Regions from separate parts of the Homo sapiens genome. Here region 2 is linked to region 1. Evidence: fine-mapped QTL for protein levels in blood plasma. Region 1 holds a variant in brackets. A gene starts in the other region. All regions are shown on one strand. Distances are from middle to middle.

Region 1 (8,321 bases):
GGTGCCCTGGACGGCTTGTGGGGCACAGGCTGTGAGAGGTGCCCAGGACGGCTTGTGGGGCACAGGCTGTGAGGGTGCCCGGGACGGCTTGTGGGGCACAGGTTGTGAGAGGTGCCCGGGACGGCTTGTGGGGCACAGGTTTCAGAGGTGCCCGGGACGGCTTGTGGGGCACAGGTTGTGAGAGGTGCCCGGGACGGCTTGTGGGACACAGGTTGTGAGAGGTGCCTGGGACGGCTTGTGGGGCACAGGCTGTGAGGGTGCCTGGGACGGCTTGTGGGGCACAGGTTGTGAGAGGTGCCCGGGTCGGCTTGTGGGGCACAGGTTGTGAGAGGTGCCCGGGACGGCTTGTGGGGCACAGGTTGTGAGACGTGCCCGGGACGGCTTGTGGGGCACAGGCTGTGAGGGTGCCCGGGTCGGCTTGTGGGGCACAGGCTGCAAGAGGTGCCCGGGACGGCTTGTGGGGCACAGGCTGTGAGGGTGCCCGGGACGGCTTGTGGGGCACAGGCTGTGAGGGTGCCCGGGACAGCTCGTGGGGCACAGGTTGTGAGAGGTGCCCGGGACGGCTTGTGGGGCACAGGCTGTGAGGGTGCCTGGGACGGCTTGTGGGGCACAGGTTGTGAGAGGTGCCCGGGACGGCTTGTGGGGCACAGGTTGTGAGGATGCCCGGGATGGCTTGTGGGGCACAGGTTGTGAGAGGTGCCTGGGACGGCTTGTGGGGCACAGGCTGTGAGGGTGCCCGGGACGGCTTGTGGGGCACAGGCTGTGAGAGGTGCCTGGGACGGCTTGTGGGGCACAGGCTGTGAGGATGCCCGGGACGGCTTGTGGGGCACAGGTTGTGAGGGGTGCCCAGGACGGCTTGTGGGGCACAGGCTGCAAGAGGTGCCCAGGACGGCTTGTGGGGCACAGGTTGTGAGAGGTGCCCGGGACGGCTTGTGGGGCACAGGCTGTGAGGGAGCCCGGCACGGCTTGCAGCTACAGGGAGAAAAGACTTGGTGCTGTGGGCCTGCCTTGGGGCTGGTGGTACAGCCCTTATCTGCTGCCCTCAGGATCTCCCGGCCCCTCTCGTCCAGGCCCCTGCAACCCCATGCCCCAGCCTCTGAGGACCAAAGGCGCCCCTGCTTGGGAAGAGGGGGCTCAGGGGAGTCGCCTGACCCGGTTCCAAGCCAGGCTGATTTACCGTTGCTAACATCCTAT[C/T]GCACGCATCCCTCTGCCTCATGCACCCAACCCCAAGGCCTGGTACACTGCAGGCCCCAAGGTCCTGTGCGTCCTTTCAATACCCTCCTCACCTGCCTCACCTGCCCCCCCTACCCTGACTCTGGCTGGAGACCCCCTCCAGGGAGTTTTCAAAACAAAGGGTGTCAGTCTCCTGTGGGATTCCCTCACCTCTGCAGCCTGCGGTCTGAAAGCTGCCCCATGGTGTGTAGTGCTAAACTTCCAACTTACTCCAGGCCAGCGGTGACAGCCCGAGGGCAGGAAGGGCACCCACACTGAGCCTCAAACAGCTAATTTTGCAACTGTAAGTCCATATAATTGTCTTGAAAAGTAATTTGTTTCAAAAAGCTAAAAAACGAATACTCTTGAGTCTCCTTCTAGTAATTCCCCTTCTAGAGGTCTATCACCAGGAAAAGATCCAAAGCACTGATATTCTTCATGGAGTTGTTTATAATAGAAAAAAACTAGAGCTTGTTCACAAAGGGGAGCTCTGCAGGCTGAAGATGTTGCACCTGTCAGCGGGGATGGGGGCACGCTTGCTGACGCAGCAACGGAAAAGCATCAGTGTGTGAAGATGCATTTTCTCTCTTTCTATTATTATTATTTTTATTTTTATTTTTTCTGAGGCAGAACCTCGCTCTGTCACCCAGGCTGGAGTGCAGTGATGCGACCTCATCACAACCACGAGCCACCATGTGCGGCCCCATGAGCAAGCCACCACGCCCAGCCTTTTTTTCCCTTGTTTTAAAAAATCCTCTATTTAAAAAAGATGTGCATGGGCCGGGCACGGTGGTTCACGCTCATAATCCCAGCTCTTTCAGAGGCCGAGGCAGGCAGATCACCTGAGGTCAAGAGTTCGACACCAGCCTGGCCAACATGGTGAAATTCCATCTGTACTAAAAATACAAAAATTAGCCAGGCCGTGGTGGTGTGTGCCTGTAATCCCAGCTACTCAGGAGACTGAAGCAGGAGAATCACTTGAACCCAGGAGGCAGAGGTTGCAGTGGGTCAAAATCATGCCACCACACTCCAGTCTGGGAGACAGAGCAAGACTCCATCTCAGAAACAAACTAACAAACAAAATTTTTATATCTACCTATAATTCGTATAAATTTAAAATACATGCATAAAATCATACCCTTTGCAAGCACACGTACTAACTAAAAGGAATATATTCAGCACATAGAAATGGTTGTCTAACGGAGGAGGGGGGAGTTAATAAACAGAGAGGATAAAAAGAAATAAATCAGTAGAGCTGGAGGAGGGTCTCCTCCAGGCTGCGATGAGAACATAGTGAGCAGAATTGCAGGCCTGCATGACCTCACCTTCTGTGAGGAGTCCGGCCTCCCAAGACGCTTTCCTGCCTAGGTGCCCGGCTCAGAGTGTCCCCTACAAGGCTACTGGAGGAGAACCCCAGACCGAGCCTCATTCAGGTGAGGGGGCTGCACACCGGAGGTGGGAGAGGTCTGTCCCTTCCCACCCTGTGACACTGGGTCCCACTTTCTCTCTAGGGGGTCTCGGTTTCCTCATTTGCAAACTGGAGCTCATAAGGTGGGCCAGAGAAGTTTCAGTGAAGTGAGGAATGGATCGTCCCTCTGCCAGGGCCCATGTGCTCTAGGTCACCCTGTCATCACAGGGACAGGGAGGTCAAGGACAGTCACTCCTGAGGCCAGTCCGGGCTGGGCTGACCACGTGGACTCTCATGCCCAGATTGGGGCCCCAATCTCCCTGAAGCTGGGGCTCCAGCTGTGACTCAGGGGTGGGCAGAAGGGGAGACAGAAGCGATAGGTTCCTCAGCCCCCAGTCCCACCTGAGGGCCCCTTTGTCACTGGATCTGATAAGAAACACCACCCCTGCAGCCCCCTCCCCTCACCTGACCAATGGCCACAGCCTGGCTGGGCCCAGCTCCCTGTATATAAGGGGACCCTGGGGGCTGAGCACTACCAAGGCCAGTCCTGAGCAGGCCCAACTCCAGTGCAGCCGCCCACCCTGCCGCCATGTCTCTGACCAAGACTTAGGGGACCATCATTGTGTCCATGTGGGCCAAGATCTCCACGCAGGCCGACACCATCGGCACCGAGACTCTGGAGAGGTGAGTGTCAGATGGGACTGCCAGAGGGACTGGGTGGGAGGCCAGGTATGTGAGTGGGGACAGTGGGGAGCGGGCAGTGGGGAGGGGACCGTGGGGAGGGGACAGTGAGTAGGAGACAGTGGGGAGAGGACAGTGGAGAGGGGACAGTGAGGAGGGGACCATGGGAAGGGGACCGTGGAGTGGGGACAGTGAGGAGGGGACCATAGGGAGGGGACAGTGGGGAGGGGACAGTGAGGAGGGGACCGTGGGGAGGGGACAGTGAGGAGGGGACCGTGGGGAGGAGACAGTGAGGAGGGGACCGTAGGGAGGGGACAGTGAGGAGGGGACCGTGGGGAGGGGACAGTGAGGAGGGGACCGTGGGGAGGGGACAGTGAGGAGGGGACCGTGGGAAGGAGACAGTGAGGAGGGGACCTTGGGGAGGGGACAGTGAGGAGGGGACCATGGGGAGGGGACAGTGAGGAGGGGACAATGGAGAGGGGACAGTGAGGAGGGGACTGTGGGGAGAGGACAGTGAGGAGGGGACCATGGGGAGGGCACAGTGGGGAGGGGAGAGTGAGGAAGGGACAGTGAGGAGGGGACTGTGGGGAGGGGACAGTGGAGACAGATAGCCTTCCCTCTCAGTGAGGAGGGCAGGGTAAGGAGGGAACGATTAGGAGTTGCACAACCATCTGGGCTCGCTGAGACCTGGGCAGGCACAGGCCCAGGTTCTGACAAGCAGAGGGTGAAAGGTTTCGTTCTAGGCCTGAAGGGCCTTACAGGGCAGCCAGGGCACTACAGCCTCTAAAGTCCCAGCATCTGGGATCAGGGCACTGTCCCAGCTTCAAATTCCCAGCATCTGATCCCCTGGGAGGGGCCAGGGAGCTTTTCCTTCCCTGGAACGCTGCTGGGAGGTCATGAGCCTGCAGAAGGGGTGGCGGGCAACCCAGTCTGGGGCTGGGAGGGAGGTCCTGTGGCCAGAGGAGACGGTGGAGGGGCTGGGGGCACCAGGCGTGCTGGAGGCGGAGGGCGGGAGATTTGGGGACCAGGCTGCACAGAACCCGTCGGAAGCAGGGCGATCAGCCGGGAGCTGCAGAGGCCTGGGGGGCCTCTAGCCCAGGGCAGCCTGGGAGGGGCAGCTGCCTGGGCACCCGGGCCCCGCGAGGAGGGGCTGGGGCCTGCTGCGGGGTCGCAGATGTGTCCCGGTGCTCGGAGAGGGCCGCAGGGCGCGTGGGCCGTGGCGGGAGGCCGCGCTGCTGGGAGCTCACGGCCCCCGCCCCCCGTCCCAGGCTCTTCCTCAGCCACCCGCAGACCAAGACCTACTTCCCGCACTTCGACCTGCACCCGGGGTCCGCGCAGTTGCGCGCGCACGGCTCCAAGGTGGTGGCCGCCGTGGGCGACGCGGTGAAGAGCATCGACGACATCGGCGGCGCCCTGTCCAAGCTGAGCGAGCTGCACGCCTACATCCTGCGCGTGGACCCGGTCAACTTCAAGGTGCGCGGGGCGCGGTGCGGGCGGGGCGGGGCGGGGCCGCGGGGCGGGCGGGGCCGCGGGGCGGGGTCGCGGGGCGGGGCGGGGTGGGGTCGCGGGGCGGGGCGGGGTCGCGGGGCGGGGCGGGGCGGGGCGGGGCGGGCGGGGCGGCCGGGGCCCGGCGGGGCGGGGCGGGGCGGGGAGGGGCTGGGCGGGGCGGGGCGCGGGGCGGGGCGGGCCGGGCCGGGGCGGGGTCGCGGGGCGGGGTCGCGGGGCGGGGCGCGGGGCGGGGCGGGGCGGGGTGGGGTCGCGGGGCGGGGCCCGGGCTAGGCCCCGCCCCCGCACTGAGCCGCCCCCGCCCCCAGCTCCTGTCCCACTGCCTGCTGGTCACCCTGGCCGCGCGCTTCCCCGCCGACTTCACGGCCGAGGCCCACGCCGCCTGGGCCAAGTTCCTATCGGTCGTATCCTCTGTCCTGACCGAGAAGTACCGCTGAGCGCCGCCTCCGGGACCCCCAGGACAGGCTGCGGCCCCTCCCCTGCCCTTCACCCTCCCACAGTTCCTGCCCTGACTCCAATAAATGGATGAGGACGGAGCGATCTGGGCTCTGTGTTCTCAGTATTGGAGGGAAGGAGGGGAGAAGCTGAGTGATGGGTCCGGGGGCTTCGCAGGAACTCGGTCGTCCCCACTGTCGTCGCGGCCTGGGGTTCACTTGGGGGGCGCCTTGGGGAGGTTCTAGCCCCTGAGCACCGGAGCTGCGGCCCGGGTGGAGCGGAGCAGTCCCGGGCCGGCCCGCGGCGTCTCCTGGGGTCCTTGAGTCGGACGGGCGTTTGTGCGTCTCCCGGCTTCCCATATCGCACAAAGATTGTCACTTCACTAAGCGTATTGGAAGCGTGTCGGGGCTCAGGGAACTTTTCCACAAAGCCTGACGTCCGAATCCCGGGACTCTGGCAGCTACGGGGGTCCCTGAGGCCGGTCCCTCCCCGACTCCTAAGAGAGTAGGGGGTTTCCTGCCCGGTGTTCTCTCTCCGGTTCCTCCCATGTGCTCCCTCCTGGCAGAGCAGTAACTTTACCCGAGGGGAGTAAACAGATGCCCCTAAAGTCTGCAGTAAAGGTGCCCACGCGCAACGGCGTGGGTCAATGCCAGAAACCCTGGGATCCCGGAGGTCGAGGCCTCCACACAGACGGGAACCCGGGCTGGTTACGTTCCCCGGCGCAGGCCGAGGGTCCCCGCGTTCCCGCCGCGCTCGGGCCGATAAGGACGGGCGGGGTGCCCGGAGGCTCTATAAGGAGGCCAGGGCGGCGGGCGCGGCCCCCAGAGCACGTCAGGCGGCGCCATGCTCAGCGCCCAGGAGCGCGCCCAAATCGCGCAGGTCTGGGACCTGATTGCGGGCCACGAGGCGCAATTCGGGGCGGAGCTGCTGCTCAGGTCGGTAGAGGCGGGGTCTCCGGGAGCTCAGGGAGGTGGAGATGAGGGTTTTGGGCGCGTGGGCCGCCAACGCCATCCAAGGTCCTTCGGGTGCGGATCCCCGGGCTCTGGGCGGTGTGGGCGCTAGTGAAGCCCCACGCAGCCGCCCTCCTCCCCGGTCACTGACCTGGTCCTGCAGGCTCTTCACGGTGTACCCCAGCACCAAGGTCTACTTCCCGCACCTGAGCGCCTGCCAGGACGCGACGCAGCTGCTGAGCCACGGGCAGCGCATGCTGGCGGCTGTGGGCGCGGCGGTGCAGCACGTGGACAACCTGCGCGCCGCGCTGAGCCCGCTGGCGGACCTGCACGCGCTCGTGCTGCGCGTGGACCCAGCCAACTTTCCGGTGAGGCCTTTCCGGCCGGGGCAATGGTGCAGCGCGCAGCCGGGGTGGGGGGGCTCTGGGGGTCCCTAGCGGGGCAGACCCCGTCTCACCGGCCCCTTCTCCTGCAGCTGCTAATCCAGTGTTTCCACGTCGTGCTGGCCTCCCACCTGCAGGACGAGTTCACCGTGCAAATGCAAGCGGCGTGGGACAAGTTCCTGACTGGTGTGGCCGTGGTGCTGACCGAAAAATACCGCTGAGCCCTGTGCTGCGCAGGCCTTGGTCTGTGCCTGTCAATAAACAGAGGCCCGAACCATCTGCCCCTGCCTGTGTGGTCTTTGGGGAGCTAGCAAAGCGAGGTCACTATTGTTGGCCAGTGAAGCTCAGGGACCTAAAAGGAGCCTCCTAGAACTCTCAAATGCGCCCCACCCCCGGAGGTTTGTCCTCCCATGGCGAGGAGTGCGATGGGGCAGAGGGAGCACTGTGATGTGGCGGGGGTAGGGAGGGTGGCCTTCGACTTCAACCCTTGAATCGGGCTTCCAACCATACTGTTCGCAAAGCACTTCCCCATTCACGCATTTATTCATTCATTCTCCCTCCATCCCCACTTCCTGCTGGGACCTGTAGATGCTAATCCTGGCCCTTTTTGCAGAGAGATGCAGAAACTGAGGTCCCAGAGCCAAATGTGCAACCTAATTCGTTGGCCCAGAGCAGAGGGCTCCGCAGACCTGTTCCTTTCCCCTTCCTTCCCCCATGGACACTTCCTCAGTGGCAAACCTGCGCTAGCCTGGTTAGCCCTCCCTGTGACCCTGCAGCCCTGGGGATGAGGTCGGGAGGAAGTCCTCAGTGGCCACAATTTGGCAGACAGAGCAGGTTTAGTCTTCCAGCCTGCTCAATGACAAGCTGTGCGACCCTGGGCGTGTCCCAGAGCTCTCAGGCCTTTACCTATCGAATAGAAAAACAACGTCCAACTCACGAGATTTTTGAAATAATTTTTGAAATCATAACACAGGGTGGGTGCCTGCAGGGTCGTTGCCACCCCACCCCTCCACCCAGCCCCAGCTGCCGTGTCTCAATCTCTGCAGGTGCCCAGGCCAAGGCACTCCCTTCCCCAGGTTCCCTCTTCTCCCTCCCCAGGACTGGGAAGGGAATCTTAGGGCTCCACCCCAGGCTTTTCAGACAAAGAATAGGGGCTGAGGAAAGAGTGGGACCTTGGAGGTCTCCAAACCCTGAATAGGGTTGGCTCTGGGTTGGCCATCCTGGGTCTGTGTGGGGAGCACTGGACCAGGCCTGGCACCCAGGTCTGACCTGGCAGTCAGCAACGAGGTCTGAAGAGAGCTGCTGGAAGTGGAGCCCTGACTGTGAGTCGGCCAAACTCCCCCCAGCAGTCAGTGCCAGTGACCTGTTGCCCTGCACTGCCTGGGACCCCAGCCCGGTAGTTTGGAGAACTTGGCCCCACGTTATCTACATCCCCCAACTGTTTTTTTGTTTTTGGGGGTTTTTTTTTTTTTTGCTTTGTTTTTGTTTTTGAGATAGGCCCTTGCTCTGACACCCCGGCTGGAGTGCAGTGGCACAGTTTTGGCTCACTGCAGCCTCAACCTCCTGGGTTCAAGCGATTCTCCTGCCTCTGTCTCCCGTGTAGCTGGGATTACAGGCATGGGCCGCCATTCCTGGCTAATTTTTGTATTTTTAATAGAGACACAGTTTCACCATGTTGATCAGGCTGGTCTCAAACTCCTGACCTCAAGTGATCTGCCCTCCTCGGTCTCCCAAAGTGCTGGGATG
Region 2 (8,321 bases), 31 Mb after region 1:
ACATTGCTGGGGAGGAGGGGCCCGTTCTGGACTCTGGCACCTGTAACTCCTGACCCCCGGTCTTGCTTGCAGCGGAAAAGGAGAGGCAGAAGAGGGAGGTGCACACTCAGCCACTCTGGGCATCCTTCCTGGGTGGACTGGGCCCCCTGCAGGGCCTGCTCTCACCTACCCAGGAGCACAGCTGATCTCGGCTGGGTCTCCCTCAGCACACTCAGGATGTGTGGGGCAGGTGTCTGCGAGTCCCCGGGGGACTCAGGTTCCTGGCCAGTCTCACTGCCCCCTGCCCCAGCATTGAGACCCTCATGTGGCTGCAGATGTGGCTGATAGTGCCAATCAAGGGAGCCTCTGTCTTCCCAAACTTAAATTTCCCCTCCCATAACCTATAACTTCAGCCCCCTCCATTTTCTGAGCTAAGCTCCAATTAGTGAAAACAAAGTCAAGTGGGAGTCAGGGGACAGGAAAGTGGCCCAGGGGTGGGGCAGAAGAGGGGGAAGGGACAAGTCTCTCTCGAATGGATCCAGAGTGAGCTCCTCCCTCTTGCGAGTAGCCATGCTGCCAAGACGCTGACCTTCAGATGCGCAAGGCTCATGTCTCCTCCCCAGCCCTGGGACCCTCTGGAGGCTGCAGGTCCTGATTGCTGTGCCAGTCACAGCAGGAACAGGCCCCAAAAACGTCACATCTCCAGGAAATAAGACCAAGGTTCCACCTAACCAGTTCAGCTCTCACCTCCCTCCCAAAATGTTCACAGGGGAAACCATGGGCCAAACTATGTAACATGAAATCTACAACCTTTTTGCCCTGACTCCAACCTGGTACTGCCACGAGCAAGTCAGGGTTTTGCGTTGACTGAGTGGGATTTGGGTCATCAATTCCAATCAGATTTCTGGAGAAGGCTCTTCTTTCCCTGATGATTGAGGTCTTCATTGCAGTCCTCTCGGTGGAAGGAGAGGCCTTCCTGGAAGTCCAAACAGTTCTCTTTTCCTCCCTCTGGCTAATTTCTTGTTCAGCTGAAGCAGAGCCTGCCTCGATGAGGGAGTTCCTATTAGGTTTCTTAATTTTTAAGAGACATCACCAGAAGTGAATTCCTCTGTAAATCAGCAGTGCTTTATTTTTCTGTTGCAGAATGAGTTTGTGATCCTGGTTTTCTACAATTCTTTAGCAAATGTGTTTTTGTAATCTCACGTTCAACCCTTCCTTTATTGATGTATCTAGCATGCTGAAAGGGAATCAGTTTCCCCTGCTATTCTCAAGACACTGGTTGAGGGAGGAGACTTCAATTCTTCACTACATCTCACTAATTTTACTCTGCAATTCATTATAGTCCAGGTAGTTAGATTAGTTCCAACTGTGCCAGGAAATTTTGAGGAATGAACAAAATTAGATTTTTTTTTCCTTTTTTTTTTAAAAGATGGGGTCTCACTATGTTGCCCAGGCTGGTCTTGAACCCTTGGGCTCAGACGATCCTGCCGTCTCTGCCTCTTACAGGCATGAGCCACTGTGCGTGGCTTCAATGTTAGATGTGTTCTTGGCAGCATGGTCTTCTAAGCCATCTGAGGCAGCACCATCTCTTTTGAGTTTCCTGGCATGTACCAGAGACCTTCCTGAAACTTTTCCTTAATGAGCTTTGGAAGGGCATTGGGATCTTGATCTTTCCCATCTGGTAATGAATTATTTTTAAAGAAATATTTAAGAAAAATTATTTAGAAGTGAAAGGATGTAGGAGACAGTCGGCCTGGTGTGATGTGAGAAAGACTGGACCTGGTGGTCATTGCTGGCTTTCAAGCTGGAAAGGGACCAGGAGTGAAAGAATGTGGGTTCTTCTATAGACTAGAAGAGGAAAGAAAAAGAACTCTTTTTCAGAGATTCCAAGGGGAACACAGCCTAGAGGACAACTTAATTTTAGCCTAGTGAGTCTCATTTTAGATTTCTGACCTCTAAGTCTGTAAGATAATAAATTTATTTATTTATTTATTTATTTAGAGACAAGGTCTCACTCTGTCACCCAGGCTGGAGTGCAGTGGCGTGATCTTCGCTCACTGCGGCCTCTTCCTCCTGGGTTCAAGCGATTCTCCTGCCTCAGCCTCCCAAGTAGCTGGGATTACAGGTGCATGCCACCATGTCTGGCTAATTTTTGTATTTTTAGTAGAGAGGGGGTTTCGCCATGTTAGCCAGGATGGTCTCGAACTCCTGACCTCAAGTGATCTGCCTGCCTTGACCTCCCAAAGTGCTGGGATCACAGATGGGAGCCACCGTGCCTGGCCGGTAACACATACTTTCCACCCTATATAAATGAAAACATGTTCACATGGAAACCTGTACACAAATGTTTATAGCAACTCTATTCACACTTGCCCCAAAGTACAAACAATCCAGATGTCCTTCCGTGGCTGAATGAACAAACTACAGTGCATCCATACAATGCAATGTGTCCACTGACACTTGTGACAACTTGGATGGAGCTCAAGAACATCATGCTGACCAAAAAAAGTCAGTCTCAAAGGTTACATACTGTATGATTCCATTTATATGACATCCTGAAAAAGGCTTAACTGTAGTGATGAACAGATAAGTGGTTGCCAGAAGTTATGGGTGAGGGTAGGGGTGGCTACAAAAGGGTAACGTGAAGGAGTGGTTTTTGGGTGACAGAAACATTCTGTATCTTAACTGCGTTTGTAGTTACACAAATCTGTTATAAAATTAATAAACTAGGCCAGATGCGGTAGCTCACACCTGTAATCCCAGCACTTTGGGAGGCCAAGGTGGGTCGATCACTTGAGGTCAGGAGTTCGAGACTAGCCTGGCCAACATGGTGAAACCCCATCTCTACTAAAATACAAAAATTAGCTAGGCGTGGTGATGCACGCCTGTAATCCCAGCTACTTGGGAGGCTGAGGCAGGAGAATCGCCTGAACCTGGGAGGTAAAGTTTGCAGTGAGCTGAGATCGCATCACTGCACTCCAGCCTGGGCCACAGAGGGAGACTCCCTCTCAAAAAAAAAAAATTTAATATACTGTACACCAAAAGGAAGTCAGTTTTGCTGTATATTGATTAAAAAATGCTACAACCAAAAAGGCAAATCAACAAAGCTTTATGAGTGTATAGGCACCTATGAATGTTGGGTTTTGAATGGAAAAAAAAAGTGACAGGAAATATACAATGTTTAATGCTGGTTACTTTGGAGGGGGCAAAAATGATTCAGTTTTTCAGTGTACGTTTTTGTATTGTTTTAATTATTTCAATTAGTATATAGTGATTTTGAAATTTGAGAAACATCTACTGAAAATGGAAAATATCTGGAAAAATATTTAAAAAGAGGAAAAAGAGTATTTCTGCTTTATTGGGTACCTGTTGACAGGGTAGTAAACAAGACAAATCCATCTCCATTCTTTTTTTTCTTTTGAGATGGAGTCTCGCCCTGTCACCCAGGCTGGAGTGCTGTGGTGTGATCTTGGCTCACTGCAACCTCTGCCTCCTGGGTTCAAGCGATTTTCGTGCCTCAGCCTCCCAAGTAGCTGAGACTACAGGTGCCCGCCACCACGCCCGGCTATTTATCTCCATTCTTATGGAGCACAGCGTGGTGGAGTTCAGTCCACACGCTTACAGGTGGCTTATCTGCAAAATGTGTCTAAAAAGAAATTTTATAGGATAAATATTTTGTACATGTTTGAAACAGTGCTTGGCACAAATGAATAAATGTAATGCAAGCTGCTATTAATACATCATCTCCGAATTGGGAGAATCATTGCGATCACATCGTTGTGATTACACAAAAGCCTCTGTCATGTAATAGGGCTCAGTAAACGTCAATTTCCATAGCATTTCGAGCCTGGATACTGAAATATGGGGCAAAAAGCAGGAACATGCCCCTGGTTTGGCTCTTGCCTTCTTGCATTTCCTGGGTTTCCTCATTTATCTTTTTTTTTTTTTTTTTTGGCCTTGTTATCTTTCTACCTTCAGGGAAGCCTCTCCCTTCTTCTCCTCCCTAGAATGACCTATCACCCTCCTTCAGGACCTAGATGCAGGGCGTTTCTATCTTAGGCTGACACTTGACTCCTTGCCTACATCTATAGCTTGGCACAGAGAGATTCACGCACCCTCAAGAGTGTGGGTGAGACATATACAGCCTGTTAGACCTGAAGGTGAGCCCAACCTGGGAAAATCGTGACCTCAGAGCAGGGCAGGATGTGAAAGGTTTTGGAAAGGAGATAGCCCTGCAGGGCAGGAGGGATTTTTAAGGGGAGGAAGTGGGTTGGGGGAAATACCCAGTGAGGAGGGAAACAGATATGTAAATTCTACCCTTTTCTCTACCCAGGCAGATGGCTCTTCTTAAGGCCAATAAGGATCTCATTTCCGCAGGATTGAAGGAGTTCAGCGTTCTGCTGAATCAGCAGGTGAGTCCAAGCTTTCCATTTCAAAGGACTGGCCTGGAGACTGGGGGGTGCCGGGGAAGTGGAGGAAGAGGATAATTGGAGCTGGTGAAGTAATGGTGGAGTTGATGGAAACAACGAGAGACACGGGATACAATGCAGAGGAAAGAGAATGTGAGAGTTGGTGCTGTGGCACTATTCTAGTATTCCCGAATCCCATTGCTGACCACATTCTCCCTTGCCAACTGCCTCTCCGCAACCCCCCAGGTCTTCAATGATCCTCTCGTCTCTGAAGAAGACATGGTGACTGTGGTGGAGGACTGGATGAACTTCTACATCAACTATTACAGGCAGCAGGTGACAGGGGAGCCCCAAGAGCGAGACAAGGCTCTGCAGGAGCTTCGGCAAGAGCTGAACACTCTGGCCAACCCTTTCCTGGCCAAGTACAGGGACTTCCTGAAGTCTCATGAGCTCCCGAGTCACCCACCGCCCTCCTCCTAGCTCAGGGACCCAGCCCCTCCTCTCTGAGAAACTCTGACCTTCATGTCCTTAGGCTGTGCTCCTGCCACTCTACCCTGACACCTCAATAAAGACCAGTGCTGGTTTTGTTGGACTTCCTGGCTTCTCTTTCATGGTCTGTCCTGACATGTGGAGGCACTCGGTCCCTTTCCTTCCGCCCTCCTTCTTAGATATGCTCTTGGAAGCTTAATTCCTTACAGCAGAGGTTAGCAGCCTTGAGTGACCACCGGGCAGCGATTCTAAACTAAAACAGGCTGAACGAGGGCCAGGAAGGCGGGACTAGAGAGAGTGCAGAGCTGCAGGGGAGGGGGTGGCAGAAACAAGAAAGGGGGATAGAAGTCCTCCAGACATTGTCCTGTGACCTGCTTGTCGAGGAGGAAACTGTTGGAAGTCTCCCAGTCTTGTTCATCCTGCGCCAGGTCCACCGCCTCGACTTTTCAATCCCCTGTCCTTAGCCCCAGCTCAAACTACATTCTAGGATCTTCGGACTCTGACTACCGCAAAATACCTCCCCGGAGCCCCAGGCATCGCAGGAATTTAGAGTTGGAAGGGATCCTGGGAACCCTTTAGCGCGCCCCTTATATTTCAGGAGGGGAAGCCACTTCCCTTTGGCTCCAACATCCCTGGGCGCAGATGCCAGGATTGGGAAGCAGAGGAATCCGCCTTCCCCCCACCCCAAGCTTCTCAGATCAATTCCCGGTCTAGCTCCCTTTCTCCCAGACCTCCAGACTCGAAGCCTCTATTTTAGGGCTCTGGGCGGAACCAGGGACGGGCCAGACTCAAGAGCTTTTTAAAAACGAAATGAAGGTGTTAGACCCGCGGCGCAGTCTCCAGGAAAAGCCTCCACGCGCAGAGGGGAGGGCCCTCCGGGGGAGGGTGCGCGGGGCGGGGGCGCGCGGGGGGAGGGGGTTCCCGGGGTGCTGAGCGGGGGCGGGGGTGCGCGGGGCGGGGGCGCGGCTAGGAGGCGCCGCACAGCAATCAGACGCGGCTCAGGGTGCGCGCGGGGAGCTGGAGGGCGCAGTTCTGGACCTTTTCGGTGTTCTCTCTAACGCGGGAAAAGTTTGGGGCCCAGAGGGATTGCTCCTCGTTCCAACCTCCAGCAAGCTTTCCTCTGGGACTTGTGAACCGACTGTTGTTTTGTAGGTCTCTGCAGCCTGGATCAGGGTGGAAAGGGAACCCGCTCAGTGTCCCCAGCGGTGCTTCCAACCCTGGGGTGTGGTCGGCCCTAGATCCAGCTTGGGAGAGTGGCGCCTCCCAGGGAAGCAGGCGGCGAGCTCCTCTGGGTTGGGGTCGGTGGTCCAGGCAGAGTCTGGGGCCTTCTCCACGGCACCTCTCAGGAAATCTCAGTCTGTGAGTGAGGACCAGAGCCCGCTCAGGCGGGACAGTAGTCGGCAGCCTCACCTTTGCAAGAGAGACCTGGCCTGGTGTGTGTGGGTGGAGGAAAGTGAGTGGGGGACGCTAGGAGAGCGCACAGCACAACGCTCCGGTGCCTTATGCAGAATGGCGAAATGTTTGCATGTAACCCACGCACATCTCTTCGTGGACTTCACATCATGGCTAGATTACTTACAATACCGACTACAACGTCAATGCTGTGCAAATAGTTGTTACACTGTATTATTTAGGGAGTAACGACAAGAAAAAAAGCCTGTACATGTTCAGTACAGAGGCAACCATCCATTTTTCTCCCCAAATATTTTCCATCCTTGGTTGGTTGAATCCACAGATGCGGAACCCACAGATACGGAGGGACCACTGTATTTGTCTTTCAGCTTAGCTGAAAAGAATGTTAGAAGCCGCTTTGGCTCAATTCATGAAGAGGAATTTTCCATACCTTTATAACTATCCAGCTATGGGAGCTGCTGAGCTAAGCACTTCTCAGGTGCTCAAAGGAAAATGACCAATTACAGGTGTAAGGTAGAAAAGATTCTCACTGGGAAGTTCAACATTGAAACTCCATTCCGACCATTCCATAAGCTTGTGCAATTGAGAAGCTGCAAAAAATATTTTTAAGACAGAAAAATCTGTTACCTGCACTTTCTGCTCTCATATTACTATCAACGAAGTGACTGGTTATAAATCTACAAGAAGTAAAATTGGGGATATTTTGATTTTTCAGAGACGGTGATATGAACCTGATGGTTCATAATAATAAAAATAAAATAACTAAAGCAGAGAGTGCCCCAAATCCATTACTGTTCCTGAAGGAAAATAAATTAGAATTAGTAAGAATAACCTTCTTTTGCTTAGCAGTATCTGAATTAATACTAGAAATAAGATTGTAAATAAATGGTAAAACATTATAGCCATAACCCTGCCCTTATCCTCACCCTCATATTGAACCTGACCTAGAGCTGACCCTGAACTTGAGCCTCACCTCTAGCTTCATCTTGCCCCTGATCATAATGGACACCTTGCCCTCACAATGACCCTGACTCTCACACTGACATTGCCTCTCATTCTCATTCTTATACTGATCCTGATGCTGAATTGGACCCTAAACTTTACCTGATCCTAATTTTCACCCTGTCTCTGACCCTCAACCTGAATCCTACCCTGACCCTTACCCTGAAATTGACCTTCACTGACCCTTCCCTTAGCATGATGTTGACTCTGACCCTCACTATGACCCTGACCCTTGATCCTCAACTTGACCTAGACAGTGATCATAATTATGACTTTTTTTTTTTTTAAAGAGGCAGGGTCTTGCTCTGTCACCCAGGCTGTAGTGCAGTGGTGCCAGCATGGCTCACAGCAACTTTGACCTCCAGAGCTCAAGCGATCCTCCTACCTCAGCTTCCTGAGTAGCTGGGACCACAGGTGCATGCCACTATGCCTGGCTATTTTTTTTTGTATTTTTTGTAGAGATGGGGTCTCACTATGTTGTCCATGCTGGTCTTGAACCCCTGGCCTCAAGCAAGCCTCCCACCTTAGCCTCCCAAAGCACTGGGACTACAGGTGTGAGCCACTGCACCTGGCCTTTAACCATGACTCTTGACCCTGAAGCATACACTCTCACCTTGACTCTGACCTTGCTCTCGTTCTGACACCACCCCCTCCTTCACACCTGAGCCTTACCCTGGTGCTCACTCTCACCTTGCATCTGACTGTGACACTCACCAGACCCTGATCCTGACTGTCACTTACACACTCTATCTCGTTCTCACCCTGACCCTGATTCTGTACTTGACCCGGACCCTCACTTTTGCCTTCAGTTTTAGCATCACCCTTAATCCCAACCGAACATTGAAGCTAACCCTACAGTGGCACTCAACTTGACCCTCCCCTGGCCTGGAAATCTTAATGTCACCATAACCCTCATCATGACCATAAATCTGACCCTTACCTGACCCTGACTCTGCTGCTTACTTTCCACTGACCCTGACTTGACCCTTATGGTCTCCTTGATCCTGACCTCACCCTGACTCTATAAGG

Alleles and levels. Positions count from the first base shown, and alleles are read on the strand shown. Strength reflects both the effect of a copy and how common the allele is.
For the plasma level of the protein whose gene starts at base 4,077 in region 2, allele T in region 1 goes with a higher level than allele C (weak association).

What was found. PIP is the posterior inclusion probability: the model's chance that the variant is causal. Protein levels are from antibody-based Olink assays in UK Biobank. Linkage for the fine-mapping came from a reference panel and not from the study's own genotypes, which makes the PIPs less certain.
Region 2: it holds the start of AHSP, and the variant in region 1 is fine-mapped to the plasma level of the AHSP protein (UK Biobank, PIP 0.93).

What each region holds. Positions count from the first base shown.
Region 1 is chr16:159,913-168,233 of GRCh38, forward strand. HBM (hemoglobin subunit mu) reads left to right here and starts at 6,066. Exons shown (of 3, transcript NM_001003938.4): 1 at 6,066-6,177; 2 at 6,356-6,560; 3 at 6,668-6,852. The coding sequence starts at 6,086. The coding sequence ends at 6,796. LOC107983982 (a long non-coding RNA gene) reads left to right here and starts at 1,035. Exons shown (of 3, transcript XR_001752047.1): 1 at 1,035-1,516; 2 at 2,581-2,645; 3 at 2,724-3,009. It also overlaps the pseudogene HBZP1. RefSeq lists an enhancer at 3,873-4,373. The variant C/T (reference allele first, on the strand shown) is at 1,195.
Region 2 is chr16:31,523,824-31,532,144 of GRCh38, forward strand. AHSP (alpha hemoglobin stabilizing protein) reads left to right here and starts at 4,077. Exons shown (of 3, transcript NM_016633.4): 1 at 4,077-4,139; 2 at 4,313-4,391; 3 at 4,635-4,980. The coding sequence starts at 4,317. The coding sequence ends at 4,868.